Homo sapiens: one gene and its partner. The protein of the gene in region 2 purifies or fractionates together with the protein of the main gene of each other region. This does not show direct contact. Each region holds a gene or a part of one and is shown on either strand. Other genes may lie near its edges.

Region 1 (4,276 bases), on a different chromosome or scaffold from region 2:
GCACATGGTCCTGATAGCTGTTTTGGGACAAGGGAAGGAGCTCATGAAGGATGGAACCCATACTAAGTGAGGTTCAAGATGGGGACAATAAACTGAGTCCCAGTCACACCTGCAGATCATGACAGCCCTACCTCTGGACTTTTGGTTATATAATTAATAGTCTCCTGACTGCGTAAGTCAATTTCTGGTACTTATAACAGAAACTGTTGCTGTCTATATCCTGTCAAGAGTAGCAGCCAAGCAGGAGCCAGATCAAAGAGGACCTTTGAGGGGCTTCCTTTCCTCACACTCCCAGACTGCGCTGGACAAGGCCCCTGTCACAGTGATGAAGGAGGTGGGAAGACGGGGCAGACTAGATCCTTGAGGCACTGGGGAGCCACAGGAAAGTGACAAGGTCAGAGCACATATTTGGCAATCATTTACCCTGTGTGCTAGACCACATTGTGGGCACTGGGGACATGGACGTGTGTCAGACCTGTTTCCTGGCCTCATGGAGCTCATGGTCTGACGGAGAGACACGAGGGAGGTAGGACTGTGGCAAAGGGAGGTATCGGGGACTGTGTGGGCCAAGGGGGAGAGGGAGGCCATTGCCTTGAGGTCAGGGAAAGCTTCCTGGAGGGAAGGTCATTCAAGTTGGATCACTAAGGATGAACAGATATTTACCAGATAGAGAGATGGTTTCATGCATCATTCATTGATTCATTCATTCATTCAACTAACACCTCATGAGGCTTCCTGTGTTCCTGGCCTGTGCTGGGCCCTGGGGACCCAGAGATGAATCCCCATCAGTTCCTGTCCCCAAGGAGCATCTAGTCTGGTGGGGCTGACAGATATGGGCAGGAACATCCATATCTAGGTGGATCTGTGCTACAGTGGAGGCAGCAGGGGGTACTATGGAAGGCTAGAGCAGGAAAGTGCTGACTGCCTAGGGAAGGGTGGGGGAACTGAGCCGGGTCTTAAAGGCTGTGTGAGACACTACCACATGGAAAAGGGGCAGGGAATTCCAGCAGAGGGCCCAACCTGAGCAAAGGAAGCTGCTGGAAAGTACAGAATCAACTTTTACTACTAGGCCAAAGGGAGTATTTGTTATCTAGAGAAATGACAGAAGATGGTGCAAAGAGGGTAGAAGCCAGAACACACAGGAAGGCTGAAAAACCTGGAATTTATTCTATAAGCAATAGGGGTTCCCAGAAGAGTACAAACAGGAAAGAACAGCATGCGAGCTTTCCTTTAAAAAAGATCGCCTGGGAGCCACCATGGGACAGGGAGGCCAAAACAAAGGAAGGCCAGCTTTCCTGCCATGGGGGTGACCAATCAACACAGAGCGACCTTCAACTCGCCTCGGCCACAAAGGAAGGCCAATTTTTCTGCCTTTGGGTGTGACCGATTAGGACAGAGCGACCTTCAACTCACCTCAGCCATGGCCAACTGGGGTTCAGTAGCCTCTTTTAAGCTCCTCCTCCTTCCCCTCCGTGTTCCCGGCTGGCAGGGCTGTGGGAAGCACAAGGGAGCTGTGAGAAAGCCTCCCTTCCACCCATGGCTGACTCGCTGTCCATGCTGACGAGCCCCCAAAATGTCCAGGAGGAGGAGGACAAGTCCCAATGTGAGTCTCCCTGCAGGGGACAACAACAACTATATTTACTGAAGCCACCTCAGCCCCACATTTGCACTGTGCTTCAGAACCTACAGAACAGCTTCGCCACCAACAATGGTGGGTTAGCACCTAACAGTCAGTCAGCACATGTTTAGGAGATTTGGTGATGAAAGTCTATGGCCACAGTGGGAGCTTCTGTCTTGCTCACTGCTGTGTCTTAGCACCAGCATGGTGCCTAGTACGCAGTAGGTGCTTTAACAGTAGGTGTAAAAGTACCTACAGTTGTTGACAGAACGAAGGTGTCTAAAGAACCAATGGAACAATGCTTCTGGGATTTCTGATTATCATCTCTGGAATTTGAGTTCAGGTAAATTGGCCTCCGAAACTGTTACTCTTTTTTGGAGACACGGTCTTGCTCTGTTGCCAGGCTGGAGTACTACAGTGGCACAATCATGGGCCACTGCAGCTGTAATTTCCTGGGCTTAAGCAATCCTCCAACCTCAGCCTCTCAAGCAGCTGGGACTACAAGCATGTGCCACCACATCCAGCTAATCTTTTTCACTTTTTGTAGGGACAGGATCTCACTTGTTGCCCAAGTTGTTCTCAAACTCCTGACCTCAAGTAAGCCGCCCTCGTGGGCCACCCAAAGTGCTGGGATTACAGTTGTGAGCCACCGCACCTGGCCACTATCTCTACAACAGAAATATTTCAACTTTTGTTTTAACCGTGACCCACAGTAACACCACCAATATGTAGAATAGGCCAGGCACAGTAGCTCACGCCTGTAATCTCAGTACTTTGGGAGGCCGAGGTGGGCAGATTACTTGAGGTCAGGAGTTCAAGACCAGCCTGGCCAATATGCTGAAACCCCGTCTGTACTAAGAATACAAAAATTAGCTGGGCTTGGTGGGACGTGCCTGTGATCCCAGCTACTCGGAAGGCTGAGGCAAAGAATCACTTGAACCCGGGAGGCAGAGGCTGCAGTGAACCGAGATGGTGCCACCGCACTCCAGCCTGGGCAACACAGTGAGACTCCATCTCAAAAAAGAAAAAAAAAAAGTATCATGACTACTCAAACACACAGTGTAACTAAACAAAAGCTTCATGAAGCAATACTTACCCTGCAATGTAAGATGCACTGGGATGTTTTCTATTCTAGTCTCTTTTATTCTACTTCATTAAAAAATCATAGTCACTGCCCACCTAGTTATTTTCATGACCCATAATACGCAAAACTGTACCACAGACATTTTTACCCATTTGTATCCACTGCGTGGACCAAGTAGCACATATCTGCGGAGTGCTGAAAGCATTTCATATCACAAAGCAGCACGGATCACTTAACAATGACACAGGTCCACAAATTCTTCAAACTCCAAGGCCAGATGTGCTTTGAAATTCAACTTTTATTTTCAAAAGGTGATATGGCATATACATGGCATATTTCATTAAAATCCCAGTGCAGGGCTGGCCGCAGTGGCTCATGCCTGTAATCCCAGCACTTTGGGAGGCCAAGGCAGGCGGATCACGAGGTCAGGAGATCCAGACCATCCTGGCTAACGCGGTGAAACCCCGTCTCTACTAAAAATACAATAACAAAATTAGCCAGGCATGGTGGTGGGCGCCTGTAGTCCCAGTTACTCAGGAGGCTGAGGCGAGAGAATGGTGTGAACCCGGGAGGTGGAGCTTGCAGTGAGCCGAGATGGCGCCATGCACTCCAGCCTGGGCGACAGAGCGAGACTCCGTCTCAAAAACAAAAACAAAAACAAAACAAAACAAAGTCCCAGCGCAGTGTGGATCAGGCTGCATTTCATAATTGAACACTTTACCCTAGAGAAAAGTATCATCGTTCATTCTAGGTAGAATAATTTAAAGTTATATTTAAAAAATACCCTGTAGTAGTTCAGGTAAGGCACGGACACTAAATTTATGAAAAAAAATTTGTTGTTCTGAGTTGTCCAGATTTTTGAGACTACAAATATGGGAATATGGTAGACCTACAATAAATGCTAATTCTACTGAACAATGAGTTTTTCTACATGTCAGAGGTTAAGCCTCAACCTACGAGTATAACTCAGTTGACAGATATTTGGCCCATAATGTTTGTTGGCAGACAGAATGTTTTGAAAGAAAATTCAAGCATGGCTCACTAGTCTCAAACTTGAAAATTGGGAAATTTCACCTAAAAATTATGTTTCCAACTTCTGAAACATCCTAGGATTTGGCAACATTGGGTCTACATCCCACGAAGTTAGTTCACTGGTGCCCATTTAAAGCTCCCCCACCAGTGCTAGGCAAGTGGGGGATGCTTATAATCCCAGCACTTTGGGAGGCTGAAAGGTGTTCGAGACCAGCCTGGGCAACGTAACAAGACCTTGTTTCTAAAAAAAAAAAATTAAAAATGAGCAAGTTGTGGTGGCACGTGCCTGTAGTCCCAACTACTTGGGAGACTGAGGTAGGAGGATCGCTTGGGAGGCTGAGGTAGGAGGATCACTTGAGCCCAGGAGTTCAAGGCTGCAGTGAGCTATGATTGTGTCACTGTACTCCAGCCTGAATGACAGAGAAAGATCCTGCCTCCAAAAAAAAATTAAATTTGTTTTTTTTTTTTTTTTTGAGACGGAGTCTCGTTCTGTCGCCCAGGCTGGAGTGCAGTGGCGCGATCTCAGCTCGCTGCAAGCTCTG
Region 2 (5,842 bases):
ATAGAATCCTCACACCAACTTGCAAGCCAAGGATTACTTATGCTCATTTTATGAATGAGAAAAATATGGCTAGGATGGCCAGGCGCGGTGGGATACACCTGTGGTACTAGCTACTCAGGAGACTGAGGTAGGAGCTTCACTTGAGCCCAAGAGCTCTGCTGACCTGCTTGGGCAACATAGCAAGACCCCAACTCTGATTTTTTAAAAAAACCTACAAGAAGGCTGGGCATGGTGGCTCACGCCTGTAATCCCAGCACTTCGAGAGGCTGAGGCAGGCAGATCACGAGGTCAGGAGATTGAGACCATCCTGGCTAACATGGTGAAACCCCGTCTCTACTAAAAATGCAAAAAAAATTAGCCGAGTGTGGTGACAGCGGGCGCCTGTAGTCCCAGCTACTCGGGAGGCTGAGGCAGGAGAATAGCGTGAACCTAAGAGGCGGAGCTTGCAGTAAGCCAAGATCGCGGCAGAGTGACTCCGTCTCAAAAAAAAGAAAAACCTATAAGAAAACGGTGAGCATTGGCCGGGCGCGGTGGCTCACGACTACAATCCCAGCACTTTGGGAGACTGAGGCGGGTGGATCACCTGAGGTCAGGAGTTCGAGACCAGCCTGGCTAACACGGTGAAACCCTGTTTCTACTAAAAATACAAAAAATTAGCCAAGCGTGGTGGCACATGCCTGTAATCTCAGCTACTCGGGAGGGTGAGGCAGGAGAATTGCTTGAACCCAGGAGGCAGAGGTTGCAATGAGCCAAGATTGCGCCATTGCACTCCAGCCTGGGCAACAAGAGCAAGACTCTGTCTCAAAAAATAAAGAAAATGGTGAGCATTTCTATTGGGTCAGAGACAAGAAAAGGATGCCTTTTATGGCTTCTAATCAACAGTAAAATGTAGGTAATGGTCAATGCAATGTTCAAAAAACGATTACGGAAAGAAGGGAAAGAATTTAGAGAAACAATAATTATAAAGGAAGATCACTGTCCTTGTTGGTCAATTATAAATTATATGATTATCTACATTGAGAATGCAAGACAAATTATTAGGACTAACAACAAAAGTCTGTATCATTCCTAATAATACATTAATTTTAAAAAATCAATAACTTTAAAAAAAGAAAAATATGGCTAGGAGAGGTAACTTGCCCAAGGTCACAGTAAATAAGTGGAATTGCTGGAATTCAAATCCGTAGCCACAGGCCGGGCGTGGTGGCTCCCCGCTGTAATCCCAGCACTTTGGGAGGCCAAGGTGGGTGGATCACTGGGGCTAGGAATTCAAGACCAGCCTGGCCAATATGGTGAAACCCCATCTCTACTAAAAATACAAAAATTAGTCGGGCATGGTGGTGAGCACCTATAATCACAGCTGCTCCGGAGGTTGAGGCAGGAGAATCGCTTGAATCCGGGAGGTGGAGGCTGCAGTGAGCCAAGATCACGCCACTGCACTCCAGCCTGGGTAACAGAGAGACTCTGTCTCAAAAAAAAAAAAAAAGAAAATCCATAGCCGTCTGGCTCCAAACCTCACACCAGGTGTGCATTAGAATCATCTGGTGAGTTTTTAACCCAACCTCCCCACCCCAGAGATTCTGATTCGTTTGGTTAGAGGGGTGGGCCCAGGTATCCTATTTTGTAAAAGCTCCCGGCTGGGCGCGGTGGCTCACGCCTGTAATCCCAGCACTTTGGGAGACCGAGGCGGGCGGATCATGAGGTCAGGAGATCAAGACCATCCTGGCTAACATGGTGAAACCCCCATCTCTACTAAAAATACAAAAAAATTAGCCAGGCGTGGTGGCGGGCGCCTGTAGTCCCAGCTACTCGGGGGGCTGAGGCAGGAGAATGGCGTGAACCTGGGAGACAGAGCTTGCAGTGAGCTGCAAGTGGAGTGCCACTGCACTCCAGCCTGGGCAGCAGAGTGACTCCATCTCAAAAAAAAAAAAAAAAAAAAAAAAAAGAAAGCTCCCCAGATAACTCCAAAGTGCTGAGGGGTACTGGTTAGAAATGCGCAATCTCAGGTCTCTCCCCAAGCCTGTTCTGAGATAAAATCCACTCCTTCACTGAGTGGCTCACTGCCATCTTCCACGCTGGCTGGAAACAGACTGCATTTTAACATGACCCCCTACGTGAATTAGATACACGTTAAGGTTTGAGAATCATTGGTTGACACCAGTAGTTCTCAAACATTAGTGTGTATCAGAATCATCTGAGGGGCTTGTTAACTCAGCTTGCTGGGCCCCACTCCCAGTTTGACTCAGGTCTGAGGTGAGGCCCAGAGATAAAGTCATTTTGAACATGTTCCCAGGTGATGCTGATGCTGCTGGTCAGGGGCCCACACTCTGGGAACTATTGGTCTACACCATGCAGCTGTTATGTAAGTAGAAATTAAGGTAATGAGGCCGGGTGCAAGGGCTCACGCCTGTAATCCCAGGATTTTGGGAGGCCAAGGCGAGTGGATCACCTGAGGTCAGGAGTTCAAGACCCGCCTGGCCAACATGGTGAAACCCAGTATCTACCAAAAATACAAAAATTACCTGGGCATGGGCGCACCTGTAATCTCAGCTACTTGGGAGGCTGAAGCAGGAGAATCGCTTGAACCCAGGAGGCAGAGGTTACAGTGAGCCAAGATTGTGCCACTGCACACCAGCCTGGGTGACACAGCGAGACTCTCAGAAAAAAAAAAAGAAAATAAATCTGGATAATGAATTGGGGAAAAAAACCCCCAACCGGTATTATATAAGGTACATAGGTTTTGAAGGTAGAGAAACCTAGGTTGGAATCCCCACTCCACCCCTAATTATGAAAACCTAGAAAAGTTAATGTCTCTGAACCTGTTTCCACATTTATTAAACTACAGGAGAAACAAAGCTACCAGAATCACACTCCACTAAAGGTACTCTCCTTTGATTTCAACATGCCCTGATAATGTATTAGTGCACTATGTCTTACCTATCCCTTATTTTCAGACCTGAGTTAAAGGGGGTGGAACGCTCTCTCTTTACGACCTCACTCAGCATCCCGTCCAGGGCTGTGCATTGTGGCACTGAGCGTGGCAAGCCAGACTAGGCCAGTGACGAGGGGGCCTGGGAGCTAGGTCCCTGGGCATGGCCTAACGACCAGCCACCCGGCTGCAGCCTGATGAATCTGCGATCAAGCAAAGGTATGGGGCTGCTGCTGCGACTGCAAAGAGCAGTCACCGGACCTCGAGTCAGGCCCGGGTTCTAGAACAGGCTTTGCCACCTCCTAGGAGGGCGATCACTTAGCAAACCACTTAGCTTCTCCAAGCTAGCTAAGCTACCGGTAAAACGGGATGAGCACCGCTTACTCAGAGCAGCGGGAGCGGGTCTGGGGAAAGGAGCTATACTCGGTAAATGGGGAAGAAAACGCTTCCTGGGCTCCGGCACCTCCTTCCGGAGGTCCTGGCATCCCCCGCATTCCGCCCCGGGGCTCCCTGCACCGCCGACCCGGACCCACCACGCGACATTCCTTCCGCTTTCCCCGTCTGGGTCGCCGCCGAAGCTAGCGGGCGCCTGGACTGGCTGCCTCCCGCCGGCTGCAGCAGGACGGAGAAACCATGCCGGCGACCGGGCCGCTCTGTCCTCCGGGCGCAGAGTGCGTCAGTGCTCTGCAAGTCACCGCGTCACGGAGAAACTACAATCCCCAGAATGCTTCGCGGCGCGGGGCTCGTGCTCCGCAAATCCCGGCCTGCGTCATTGGAGTCTCTTTCACTAGAGTCGTTCATTCATTCCGCACGCATTCATTGAACCGGCGACCTGGGCCAGGCTCCTTCCCAGGCTCCGGCATGGAGCAGTGACCAAGATCAAGTGGCTCCCTGAGCTGATGGCGCTGCAGGGGAGAGAGTCTTAAGAAAACAAAGAAGAAAAATAGGGAAAAATTTCTTCAGAAGATTAAAGGTGTGATGTGATGGTGACAAGGTGGTCTTTTATTGGATTGTCAGGGGTGCCCTGAGAAGGTGACATTTGAGTTGAGATTAGTGACATGAAGCCAAGCTTGTGAAAACTATGGGAGGAGCATTGCAATTAGCGGGAACAGTTTGTTAAGTAAAATTTATAGGAGGCAGGGCCGGGTGCAGAGGCCCACACCTGTAATCCCAGCACTTTGGAGGACAAGGCGGAAGGATCACTGGAGCCCAGGAGTTCGAGACCAGTCTGGGCAACAATGGGGAGACCCTGTCTCTACAAAAAATAGAAAAAATTAGCCCACCGTGGTGGCGTACACCTCTGGTCCCACCTACTTGGGAGGCTGAGGCAGGAGAATTGCTTGAATCCAGGAAGTGGAGGCTGCAGTGAGCTCAGAAAGTAACACTTCATTCCAGCCTGGGCAACAGAGCAAGACTCCGTCTCAAAAAAAAAAAAAAATTGGAGGCCATTGGTTTGAACAGGGCTCCTGCACCAAGCCCAACAGAACCAAAATGGAGTCACTCATGCTAAAGTTCTACATCACCAAGTGGAAACTAAGTTGTTTATCTGATATTCCGATAAATCAGAAGAGTGAGAGATAGCTAGATCTCCAAACCATCCTGTTTTAGCTGGCAGGATAAGGAAGTCCCCTCTGCTTTAGCCTTCAAAGTTACAAGGAAAGTAACTTTGAAACAACCAATCTTTTTGTTTTCTGTTTCTGCTTTCCTCAGCCCTTTTCTGGCTGTAAAACCAATCTCCTCTGCTCAGCTCATTTGAACACTCATTCCATTTTATAGAATGAAGTGTTGCCCGATTCTAGAGTTGCAAATAAAAGTCAGATTTAACAAATTTGGCAAAAAAAAGTCAAATCACCAATTAAAAGTTAAATTTTTTCTTTTCACAGTTCATGCAAAGAACCTGGGGGAAATGACCTTGACAATTTAGGAACACAGGAAAGGCCAGGGAAGCTGGGGAGAGTGGTATAACAAGAGGCCAGAGAGGAAGCAGGAACCAGAGCATATAGGGCTTTGTGAGCCAAGGTAAGGAGTTTAGATTTCATGGTTAGGAGTGCAGCCTCCGGATACAGTGCCTAGGTTCAAATCTACTCCTGGCTAATTGTGACTTTGGGCAAGTTAGTATCTTCTCTGTGCCTCAGTCTTCTCATCTAGTACTAGAAGTGCTATGACAGGCTATTGAAAGGGAGCGAAGTGATTTGATTTACTTGTAGAGACAGGTTCTCACCCTGTCATCCAGGCTGGAGTGCAGTGGTGTGATCATAGCTCACTGCAGCCTCAACTACCTGGGCTCAAGTGATCCTCCTACCCAAGCCTCAAGAATAGCTGGGACTACAGGCACACGCCACTGTGCCCCACCTGATTTACATTTTTTAAAAGTCACTCTGTATAGCCTTGGAAAAATTACTTTCTTCCTCAGCCTCAATTTGCTTGTTATGAAAACAAAAAATTAGGCCTTTCTCAGAGAACTGTAAGATTTAAGTGACCTTCATTAATGTGTGAAAGCATCTGGCACAGAGAAGAAGCTCAGTAAATTAGGCTTCTTGGCTGGGGGTGGTGGCTCACACCTGTAATCCCAACACTTTGGGAGGCCAAGGCAAGAGGACTGTTTAAGCTCAGGAGTTTGAGACCAGCCTGGGCAACATAGTGAGACCCCATCTCTAAATTTTTTTTTGTTTTTGAGATGGAGTTTCACTCTTGTTGCCCAGGCTGGAGTGCAATGGCCTGATCTCGGCTTACAACCTCCGCCTCCCGGGTTGAAGCAATTCTCCTGCCTCAGCCTCCCAAGTAGCTGGGATTACAGGTGTGCACCACCACACCCGGCTAATTTTTGTATTTTTAGTAGTGACGGGGTTTCTCCATGTCGGTCAGGCTGGTGTCGAACTCCCTACCTCAGGTGATCTGCCCACCTCGGCCTCC

The links. Proteins that work in one complex are often made in the same cells at the same time.
Region 1: the proteins of LSM10 (region 2) and ZNF473 purify together in Homo sapiens (affinity purification with western blotting, with the first as the bait; one study listed by BioGRID). This does not show direct contact.

The regions. Positions count from the first base shown.
Region 1 is NC_000019.10:50,028,229-50,032,504, reverse strand, and holds part of ZNF473 (zinc finger protein 473), read right to left. Parts: intron 1,614-4,276; 5' UTR 1,423-1,613; coding exon 1,414-1,422; intron 1-1,413. UniProt on the Homo sapiens protein: Involved in histone 3'-end pre-mRNA processing by associating with U7 snRNP and interacting with SLBP/pre-mRNA complex. Increases histone 3'-end pre-mRNA processing but has no effect on U7 snRNP levels, when overexpressed.
Region 2 is NC_000001.11:36,394,305-36,400,146, forward strand, and holds the start of LSM10 (U7 snRNA-associated Sm-like protein LSm10), read right to left. Parts: upstream 3,605-5,842; 5' UTR 3,463-3,604; intron 1-3,462. UniProt on the Homo sapiens protein: Appears to function in the U7 snRNP complex that is involved in histone 3'-end processing. Increases U7 snRNA levels but not histone 3'-end pre-mRNA processing activity, when overexpressed. Required for cell cycle progression from G1 to S phases.